2 linked regions of the Homo sapiens genome follow. The protein of the gene in region 1 interacts with the protein of each later gene in a pairwise test. Each region holds a gene or a part of one and is shown in the gene's direction. Other genes may lie near its edges.

The links.
Region 2: the proteins of FAM228A (region 1) and PLEKHA7 interact in binary tests that used the Homo sapiens proteins (3 or more experiments, as listed by UniProt).

The regions. Positions count from the first base shown.
Region 1 is NC_000002.12:24,170,537-24,178,052, forward strand, and holds the start of FAM228A (protein FAM228A), read left to right. Parts: upstream 1-4,516; 5' UTR 4,517-4,638; intron 4,639-4,930; 5' UTR 4,931-4,944; coding exon 4,945-5,037; intron 5,038-7,265; coding exon 7,266-7,334; intron 7,335-7,516.
Region 2 is NC_000011.10:16,776,567-16,780,477, reverse strand, and holds the end of PLEKHA7 (pleckstrin homology domain-containing family A member 7), read left to right. Parts: intron 1-1,457; coding exon 1,458-1,480; 3' UTR 1,481-3,181; downstream 3,182-3,911. UniProt on the Homo sapiens protein: Required for zonula adherens biogenesis and maintenance. Acts via its interaction with CAMSAP3, which anchors microtubules at their minus-ends to zonula adherens, leading to the recruitment of KIFC3 kinesin to the junctional site.

The DNA.
Region 1 (7,516 bases):
TCTGGCATCTGAGCTTTATATTATCTTGCTTTAAATTATCCATTTTTCTCTCATTCCATATTCCTCATCCTCTTTAAATTATTCTACCCTGACAGTTATCTAGTCTCCCAACATCTCACCCCTAATCAATATATGGTTCTAAGTGAAACTAGATTTTCTTTCTTTCTTTCTTTTTTTTTTTTTTTGAAACAGGGTCTCGTTCTGTTGCCCAGGCTGGAGTGCAGTGGCATGATCATGGCTCACTGCAGGCTGGACCTCCCAGGTTCAAGCAATTCTCCGCCTTTCAGCCTCCCGAGTAGCTACGACTACAGGTGTACGCCATCATGCCTGGCTAATTTTTTGTATTTTTTGTAGAGATGAGGTCTCACCATGTTGCCCAGGCTGATCTTGAACTCCTGGGCTCAAGCGATCCACCCGCCTCAGCCTCCCAAAGTGCTGGGATTACAAGCATGAGCCACTGCACCTGGCTGAAAACTAGATTTTTAAAACTTTATACTATGCACAATTTCAGAGAATTACAGAAAAAATAATTATAATTGTATAATGAATCCTTATGTTTCTGACATCCAGCTTCAATACTGATTACCTCATGTCCAGTCTTGTTTTGTGTATATGCATACCTACTTCTCAACCCTAACTGGATGACTTTGAAGCAAATCCCAGATGTCGTATCACAAATATAGTTGCTCATTCCACATGGTGAAGAGAAGATGCCTTTCCTTTCCCTGCACTTTGACACGAATACCAATTCCAAATATCTCACATTTCCTCTGAAGCCTTGTACTATTTCTGTATTATTTGAGATCATTTGTATTGCAAGTAACAAGCTAACCAGAGCTAACATAAGCACAAATGGTCCCTGGTGGTCTAGTGGTTGGGATTAAAAAAAAAAATTTCATTGAAAGAGTGCCAAAGCATCTTACAGAACCCTGAGAAAAAACTGAATTCCACAGGAATGGCAGGAACCTTGACAGCACTGGCCCCTGAGCAGCAGGCATCTCAGACCCTTCTAGGCTGTTGTCATGAACGTGACTCACAACACCTTTCCAAGTCTCTGTTTTGGTTAGACGTCTATAATCCTAGAAGAAAGACAGGAGAATCTGATCCTAGACTTGGGTCAGGTGTACACTCCTTGACCAATTAGCCACAGAGAAGAACAGGGAGGTGCTGCCATCGAGTCCACCTCTGGCCAGGTGAAGTGGCTCACGCCTGTAATCCCAGCACTTTGGGAGGCCGAGGAGGGTGGATCACCTGAGGTTAGGAGTTTGAGACCAGCCTGACCAAAATGGCAAAAGCCCATCTCTACTAAAAATACAAAAATTAGCTGGGCATGGTAGGGGGGCACCTGCAAGCCTAGCTACTCAGAAAAGCTGAGGCGGGAGAATCGCTTGAACCCAGGACGGGGAGGCTGCAGTAAGCCAAGATTGCGCCACTGCACTCCAGCCTGGGCAATAGAGCAAGAGACGCCATCTCAAAAAAAAAAAAAAAAAGTCTACCTCTGTGAGTGGAGTCAGGGATTTGCCAGAGATGGGACCACGCAGGCATCTCTAATCCACCATGTGGAGCAAGGAGGCCAGGAATCACTGAAGAAAGCTGAGCCCAAAAAGACAGGCAGGAATCTTACAGGTCATGCTAAAGCGTTTGGAATTTATGGGGAGACCCTGAAGGATTTTATAATACTCTAGTTCTTGGCATTTTTTCCCTTTTATATTACTTCATCAGTCAAAACAGACTTCTAGAAATCACATCAGCATTAAAGGGATATTGTTACTTCACCTTGACTTTTTATAGAAGGAGAAAAGTCTCGGTAAATCAGTTCTGTTCCATGAATCAGTCATTACTGCCTTCTCCATAGCCTTTCCTTCGTTCAAGTAAATTTAGAAATTTCTTAAGTTTTCTTTATAACAGGTAGCCTAAATCTATATCATACTTTTAAAATAAAAATCTAGGTGCAAATTTGTTCTTATGGTTAAGGTTAACATGTACACTTCACAAACATTGAGACTTTTGTTTTGTTTTCTGGGACAAGGTCTTGTTCTGTCTCCCAGCTGGAGTGGATACAAGCATGGCTTGCTTCAGCCTCAACCTCCCGGACTCAAGTGATCCTCCCACCTCAGCTTCCTGAGTAGCTGGGACTACAGGTGCCTGCCACCATGCCCAGCTAATTTTTAAACGTTTTGTAGAGACGCGGTCCCATTGTGTTGCCCAGGCTGGTCTTGAACACCTGGCCTCAAGCGATCCTCCTACCTCGGCCTCCCAAAGTGCTGGGATTACATGCATGAGCCACCATGACTGGCCTAGACTTTTTGATTTAAAGAGACTTTTTGGATAGAAATGCTTTTCTCTATTACAGTTATAAATGACTAAAAATACTAGCTATGCCAAAATGGCAACCAGAGGCCGACTGCAAAGCTTCAAAAGGCTTGATGCTCTCCTGGTAGACAAGTCTTCAGTCTCTTAAATGTTTTTTTCATATGTTGACATTGAAATTTCATTTTGTGTAGATGTTGGGATTATGTCTCATTCATTTATTTATTCATCATTCACTTAGTAAGTATTTAAGTGCCTGTTTTTCCCAGGTGCTCTGCCAGGTTCTGGGGATATAAGGATGAGCCAACATAGGCTCTCTGCCCTAAAGTTAGTGGGAGAAACAGTAACAAAAGATTTTAATACTATGAGATTAACTGACTTAGTTGTGGTATGTAGAAAGAGACACAGAGCCTGCAGCAAGAGCCTAGGTGAAGACTCAGTGAAGCACTACCTATTGAAAGGAGAATCTTTCAAATCCTTAACAGTTATTTTCACCATGTAAAAAAGGCGACATTGCCAGGGAACATCAAGTAAAGAGACAAATGCTCAGGTAAGCTTTTAAATCATATGAGATTGAAATAAGTTGATTCAGTAAATCAGGGAAACTTTTATTTTCAAATGAAGTAAGGAAGAAGCTAGGTAGAAATTAAAAATCCTATTTTGTATCACCTTTTGCTTATACTTAATGTAGTTTAAGCCATCAGTATATTATACTTTTCTGTGTATGTCGTCTACTCAACAGGAATTTTCTGTTCGCCTGCTATTTGGGTCAGTCATAGATGGTCCCATGTTATGAGAAAGATGTAAAGATGAGATAGATTCAGCTCCTTTTCTCGAGAAGATTATACCATATAAGGAAGTAATTTGCTGAATGGTCTCTCAGTTAGCCTGACTAGAATCTCTAAATCATGGTCTACACAGCAGTAATGAGGAACTTTGGCCCCTCAAGTGTCAATGAAGGCCAACTGGGGCACCTGGATTCCTATCTCCATCTGGCAGTAATGAGGTGGTAACCTCATTAACCCTGTTAGATTGGTGTTGGAGAAAGCCAGCTAAAACAGAAAGTTTAAATAAGATCCAGAGTCTCATAATATAAACTGAAAATGTTCAGACTTCAATAGAGACCAGCACTGAGATGACAAAGATGTTAGAATAAGCTCACAGACTTTTAAAGTTGCTATGAGAAAACTGCTTCAATGAGCAAATATGGATACACTTGAAGCAAATGAAAAAATAAAAATCCTGAGCAAACAGGAGATACAAAGAAGAACCAGATGAAAATTGTAGAACTGAAAATTACAATAGCCAAAATAAAAAGCTCAGCAGTTAAGCTCAACAGTAGAATAGAGAAGATGGAGGAAAGAATCAGTGAGCTGGAAGATAGAACAATAAAAATTACCCAATCTTAAAAAATGAGAAAATAGACTGGGGGTGGAGGGAAGAAGAGAGGCTTAAGTGGCTGTGGGGGCTATAATAATATTCATGTCATCAGAATCCCAGAAGGACGAGAGAAACAGGCAGGACTAAAAAACATACTTGAAGAAACATTGGCTGAAAACAGAGTAATCCTTGTAGTGGTGTCCTGATACACCTGATACAAGATAATATCCTGTATCTTGACTGTAGCTATGTCAAATCTTGGTTGTGATAATGTACCATACCTTAAACTATTAACAATAATTCTAGATATCATTAAATTTGTAGTCAGAGTTTTCGCATTTTCCTGATTGGCCCAAATGTTTTGAAGTCGGTTTCTTCACATCAGAATCCAAACCAGGTCCACCTGTGGCACCTTCACCCTTCAGTGGGAGTAAGGAGCCGGACGCGTCACTTAAAACCATTCCTCTTACGTTGTCACCCTCAATCTTACAGGTAAATGGCAAATTCTCTTTCGTATTAGTGTACATGCCTCGATAAAAGTCCAGAAGGGCGGCGGGGGCCTCGGCGGTTGAAGGCCCGCGTGCCCTGGCTCCTGCGAGGGGAGGGCGCCCCCGAGACAGACGTGGAGGGAGGGCGAGGGCCAGGCGCTGGGCTTCATCACTGCGTTTCCGTTTTCTGTGAAATCAAATGGCGCCTTTCCCTTTCCCGGGAAGTCGGTGTCACCGCCCGTTTGCTGTGAAATCAAATGGCGCCCTTCCTTTTCCCGGGACTTCGGCGTCACCGTCCAGCTGGCGTCGGGGCAGCACCCCGGGATCTGGCGTGGCGCATGCGCCCCGACGCTCGGGCCCGCGGGCTCCTTTCTCCGTCGCCGCTCCAGGACGCGGCCTCGGGGGAGCCCTACCGGGACGGAGCCGCGGGGCCTGCGACTTCCCCCGGAGCTGGCCTGAGGTGGGGCCCGGGGAGGCCTACGGGCCTGGGGGTCGCGGAGCCCAGGGAGGGCTGTGGCAGGGCCAGGGGGGCGCGCCCCGGAGGAAAGGCCCGCTTTGGCCCGAGGACGACACGGGAGTGGGTAGCCGGGCCTGTTGAAGCGCCTAGGGCGCCAAGGATCCCAGTTTGTTGGGTGACTCGGCTCAGCTTTTAGAAAGGGGCCGAGCGGGATTTGAACACTCCCTGAGCCCAAAGGCCTGGCTCTCAACGGTAACCGTCTTCCTCAGCCTCAGTTTACCTTTTCATCCCTCAGGGATTCTCCTGTCCATGGCTGCCACCAAAACTGCGAGTTATGATGAACATTTCAGGCCAGAAAAGTTAAGAGAATGGCCGGAGCCCGAGTCCGTTTCTTTAATGGAGGTGAGATAACGTGGCGTTTTGAGACGTCATTTTGGCGGGGGGACCCCTCGAGTTTGGGAACTGTTTATCTTAATTTCGCTTCTGTTCTCAGGATTGTGACAGTGCCTGCTTTAAAGCAGGCGTTGAAGGGGAATGTTCGGGCTCAGATTTGGCCGAGAGTGTGGCCAAGAGTGTTTCCAGTCGCCAGCCTGGGGGCTGGCGCACCGACGGGGGCGGGCAGCCGGGCGGGTGAAGGCAGCCACCCCAGCTCCCCGGCAGAAGCCAGGTCTGGGCTTGCCAGTCAATTCTGCATACTTCAGCGTCTGGTAATGATTTTCTCAAAAAGTTTCATTATTTTGTGTCATCCTATGATTTGCCTCGCTGTGAAAAACTCTTGGAAATTTCCTTTCTTTTTCCCCTTTTGCCCTAGTGGCGGTCGGAGCAGTGAGATGCTTAATTTTTCTATGTGTGTGCACAGAAAGCTGTGGATTTCGAAAAGTGCTGCTGCAAATCATGACCTTTTCCTTATATTTCCTGGCAAAATCACAAAGAAGAGCCATCAAAGACAAAAACTGTTTAATTTCTTTAAACAAAGATTATTTGAGAATCTGACTCAAGAATGTACATAACATTTGTTAACAATCTTACTAGGATGTTCTTTAAGAAGGTGACTTCCCAAGATGCTTGTCAATATGTTCTGCTTCTCCAAATAAATAAATAGATTCTAAATTTTTATTGTAGTGTCAGGATACATGTTTAATTGTTTTACATACTTTTTCAGTTGCCATCTTCATTTTAATTAAAAAAAATATTTTAGAGACAGGTTCTTGCTCTGTAGCCCAGGCTGGGGTGCAGTGGCCCAATCATAGCTCTCTGTAACCTCAGACTCCTGGGCTCAAGTAATTCTCCTGCCTGGGCCTTCAGAGCACTAGGATTACAGGCGTGAGCCACCCTGCCTGGCCTGTCTTCTTAAAATAAGTCTGAGAAGGCTTTAAAGCAAGATCCTGTTCCTATTACAAAGAGAGCTTTATTTTAGGAAGACCTGGGCAGCTGTTTGAATATCATTTTAGATCTCATGTGAAGCTATTAAATATGTGGGTAAAAAGAACAACTTTCCTTTTTTGAGATTTCTCTTATTCACAGATTTGGTATTTGAGTTTGGGGTTTAGTTTGTTGTGATGCATTCAGTGTGGCAGAATAGAAAGAAGAATCAGAAATTGAATAACAGTTCTAAGAACCTGTATCATTTTTCATCAGCAATAATTTTTAATGTAACAATTTATCTCTTCCAGATACTGGATTTTCATTGCCTTTTCATTTGTTCACACTTAGTCCTATAAGAATAAAAGCTAGAGATTAGTGCATAGTGATCCAACTGAAAAAGCCCTAAAGTGGGGATTAAAATGCATCAGCTTTACCCAAACTCATAATGGAAATAGCAAGTCCCTAGATGTGGATGATGTTGTTTGGAGGCCATGAGCTCTCACTAATTAGCTCTGAGATTCTGGACCAGTTGAACTAAAGGGAACTTTCTGTGGTTTTTGACTTATGAAGAGATCTAGCAAAAGGCGGGAAACTTCAAGGGCCCTTTAAGACACACCTACTAGCTGGGTGGGGTGGCTCACGCCTATAATCTCAGCACTTTGGGAGGCCAAGGTGGGTGGATCACTTGAGGTCAGGAGTTCGAGAGCAGCCTGGCCAACATGGTGAAACTCTGTCTCTACTAAAAACACAGAAATTAGCCAGCTGTGGTGTCATGTGCCTGTAATCCCAGCTACTTGGGAGGCTGAGGCAGGAGAATCACTTGAACCTGGAGGGCGGAGGTTACAGTGAGCCAGGATTATACCACTGCCCTGCAGCCTGGGTGACAGCCAGACTTTGTCTCAAAAAGCAAGCAAACAAAAAACACCTACTGAATGCCTGAAAAGAGGATTCCTTTAGTAAGCTTTTTAGTGCTTTAAAACGTAATTTAATAATATGCTATCAGGGATTTTTTTTAAATAGTCTGGGTGGGGGGGTGCTGAAAAATGAGTAGGGATTTATTGGATGAAATAAGATTGACTTGGAATTAATCACTCGAGCCTGGCTGACAAGTTCACAGAGAATGGGTTTAGAAATTTTCCATATTTTTATGTTACCAAATAAGCCTCAAGATTTACACTAAAACTATTGGTAAAGTACACTGAGTTTTGTCATTGTAGTTTGTTTCTTCAGGATTCACATCTTAATATTCAATTCTGTAATTTTAGGTATTAGCTAGAGAAGACATTGATGAAGCAGTATGTGCAATATTATTTAAAGAAAATTCCATTGTGAAGGTAAGAGTTGGCTCCACGCTGCATTCTACATATGTTCTAGGGGAGCAAGAGTGTGCAGAACAACATGGCCAAGAGTTTATGTCACCGTGATCCAAGAGACTCATTTTGCAGGAGTAATGAGGATCCTCTAATTTACTTGTTTGTACTACATGCATCTGAGGCCATGCCCCCTTCTTGCAGGA
Region 2 (3,911 bases), on another chromosome or scaffold:
TGGGGCTCACTCCAGGTCACAAAGAATTGGTGTCAGCGCAGAGACTGGGACTGCCCTTTTGGTCACTGGGCACTTTAAGAGGGAGAGAAAGGGAAGCCCAGGGCAATGTGAAATTGGCCCTCAGCCAGGCAGAAAGCTCTGGCACCAACCCTACCAAGTTCTCCCCATGTGGGCATCTAGTGATGAGAGGCAGTGTGGGATGAGGAGGGAGCCCTGAAACAGGAGGCTGGCATCTGGTCCAGTCTCAAGTGAGTTCTTGGCCTGGGCCTGTTGCTTTTGAGCCCAGCGGTTCACCTGGACAGGGGAAGGTCAGACTACCAGTCTGGGCAGTCCTTACCCTGACATCCCATCCCACTATCATTTTGCAGGGCTTTCCCCTCTCCTTCCTTTACGTATACTTGTGGTTAACATTGTTGAGTGCCTGCTGTGTGCCAGGCATTGTGCTAAGTATCTCTTTCGATCCACACAACAACCCTATGAAGATATTCCCCCCCCCCTCCCCGTTTTAGAGATGAAAAAACAAAAGCTCAGAGGCCTTGAGGGATATGCGCAAGGAATCGCAGCTTGTTAAGTGCTGGGGTTTGAACCCCTTTGATGTGAGTTCAGAGCCTTTGTTCCCCATCACCACTCATGGGTTCATCTGGGCCGCCCCGAGCAGCTCTAGGTGTTTGGAGAAAGAAGTGAAAGGAGGGAGAGAGTATTTGTGCTGCAGGGAGCGAAGCATGATTTTTTGGCAGGTGTCTATCCTGGGTGCTCCCCGTGCCTCACAGCAGAGTCAGCAGGTCCCCGCCAGCCTGAGCATGAGAGGAAGAGGTCAGCCTCCTTGGGCCAGGCTCTGAGGAGGTGTGGAGTAGAGGCCCCGTGGTTGAGGAGCCATAGGGAAGTGCTCTAGCCACGCCCATTGTGAAGGCCACATTTGAGGGTGTGGCTTTCTCCTAGAGATCTGAGCACAGTAACAGCGCTCAGTCACAGAGAGGCAGGAGAGAGGTTCTGTTCCTCCTGGGTTTTGGTGCCCCCATGGCTGTAAGATTGGCCTATTATACTCTTTGGAGTACTGCATTTCTTCTTACTCTCAAAGCATCCTTGTTAAGAAGTGGGTATGACCACCATGTTTTTTAGGTTAGAAAAACAAGGCCCACAGAGGCCAAGAGCGCTACCCACATTGAAAGAATGAAGGGCAGGGCCAGACTGCACCTTTATTAGAGTCTTTGCCCTGTCGGGATGGGGACCCAATTTAGGGGCCAGCATGTGTCTAGCAGTGGAATAGGGGTGCAGGGAGGGTGGGGCAAGAGCCCCATGTGTCCTGGAAGCTGAGGGTCCCCCAGCAGCGGCCGCATTGCCAGAGCCCCCTGCTCTGCTGCTCTGCCTGTCCGCCTATCTGCCATTCCATCATGTGTGTGCAGACGTGCCTGCTCCCTGGATGCCAGCCTCTCACTGTCTCCTGTGCTTTTTGCCAGCCCAGGCAGTGACTGACCCGTGACCCAGCATGCAAAGAAGCCTGGAGCCAGGGGCCCAGTGGAACCAGCTTCCTCCAAGGAGATGACCTTTCTGCCCCCAAGGAAACCCCTTCCAGCTGAGCAGGGAATCCGGCCGGAGGAAGGAGCAGCTTACCGACTGCGGGTGTTCACCACAGGCCAGGCCCTAATATGCACCCACTAGTTTAGCTCAGACTCCTCTCTACATATGAATGGCAAAGGCACTTTTGATATACACTGTAAAATACACTGTATTTTAGAATCGGAATCTATTTTCTAATGTTCCCCTCAAGGGCTGAGTGGCAGGAAGGTTGAGGATGCAGGACTTTGCAGCTGCACGTACAGATTCAGGTACTTCTGGGTGACAGGTGTTGTGGGGGCAGGAAGGGCGGGGCAAGCCGAGGCTAGTCCAACTTCCAATGACCTCAGGAGAAAGTGAGATTTAAAGAGGTGTTCCCAGTAGACTCCAGCAAGAGGCTGGTTGGCGTGCTGTCTGGGAGAAGAGGGGCCCTTGGCTGCAGAGATCAGCTGTCCCTGACCTGATGACCAGCTCTGTGTGAAACTCCACGAGGATCACACGTGGAGCCCAAGTCTGTGCCTTGCCCCTTGGGTTTGGCTTAGGGGCAACAGTGTGTTCAAGAGGACTGGGGCCCACAACCTGCCCCCAGGCTTCCTCCAGCAAAAGGCTCTTGTCAGAAAGAAAAAAGCAGTTTGCTATCTTTTTTTTTTTTTGAGATGGAGTTTCACTCTTGTTGCCCAGGCTGGAGTGCAATGGCACGATCTCGGTTCACTGCAACCTCTGCCTCCTGGGTTCAAGTGATTCTCCTGCCTCAGCCTCCCAAGTAGCTAGGATTACAGGCATGTGCCACCACGCCCGGCTAATTTTGTATTTTTAGTAGAGACGGGGGTTTCTTCATGTTGGTGAGGTTGGTCTCGAACTCCTGACCTCAGGTGATTCATCCGCTTCAGCATCCCAAAGTGTTGGGATTACAGCCGTGAGCCACCACGCCCAGCCTGCTTTCATTTTTAACAGTACACATTGAAATACAGAAAAGGTGAGAGGAAGCAACTTTCATTGTATCGTAGCAATAAACTCCACACTGGGTGACATCTACCTAGAAATCCCTTCCCTCTAACCAGGCCATGATGGGAACCTTTGCTGCCTGCCCTTGGAGAACCCCGGATTGGCTTCCCTGGGACTCAGGTCTGGTGGCAGGAGGGCAGCAGTGTGCCCCCACCATCCCTCATGGCCTGCCGCCAGCAGGGCCATAATGGCAGGACTTTGATTTGACTTCCAGCCCCACATGAGGAGGGGGGCTACCAAGCCAGGTGCAGTGTTTGTGGCCCTTTATTTAAGTTGTTTTCTTATATTATTCTGCATATAAACAATGACGTTTAAATGGAAAAAACAACAACAACGAAAACCTCCATTGGGTGGAGCCACACTTTAAATGAAAATTTCTCTTTGACTATGCTCAGAAAAAAAAATAGAATTTTGAATATATCTAGCAGTTGTTGTCTATTTTTAACTAACTCCATATGCTGCCAGTATCGACTTCATGACATTTGCCAAAATAAAATTTTATTTTTGCCTTTATAAGATTTTCTTGGAAAAAATGAAATGAATATTTTGCAAGAAAAAGTTAATTTAAAAATGTAATGGTTTGCAAAAAAAATGTGATGTACAGATTAAAATATTAACCTGATACGTTTCCTGTTTCTTGCTGGCTATAGTCTCTGGTGAGTGGCCTGTGTACGTTTGTTTCCATTTCTTTGGAAAATCCCCACTGTCAGCTCTCGGCCCTGCTTCTATTTACCTATGAAAAGTTTCTTCTGGTGACGATTCCTTGACATTTGATTGACTGTAGAGGCCTGGATTGAGGAGGCCTGTGCTTCTGGGCCCCTGGCTAGGCTTCCACAGTTGCTCAAGGCAACCCCCTACCCCATCCCAGTCAAAGAGCCACCAGGCTGTGGACTCCCTTGTGGGGCTGGTTTGTCAGACAGACTGCAGTCCAATTCAAGACAGCGCAGGGAACGCTGTGGGCCCCCTTCCAACCCACATGCTGCCGGCTCGCTCCTGGGAGGCAGCTTAGTGACGGACCATTGCAAACTGGATTTGTATTTAATTCATTTTGACTTGTGATGTATGCTCACAACAGAAGGCAAGAAGCCAGTTCCATTGAGGGGTGTGTATATTTCTGAGCTGTGGTTACGGCAGTTTTTCTCTACTGCCAAGAAGAGCATCCGAGGTTCATGGTGACTTTCCAACTATTTAAACTGGGGAAAGTAGATTCCAAGGCATTCCGAACAGGGGGTACTGCTGCTTTTTTAGCTACTGAACTCTTTAATTTTAAAATAAAATGTACTCTTTGGTTTTAAACATTACTTGGAGATGTCACCATAACAGATGAAGGGGGGTGGTGGTGGTGGTGAGAA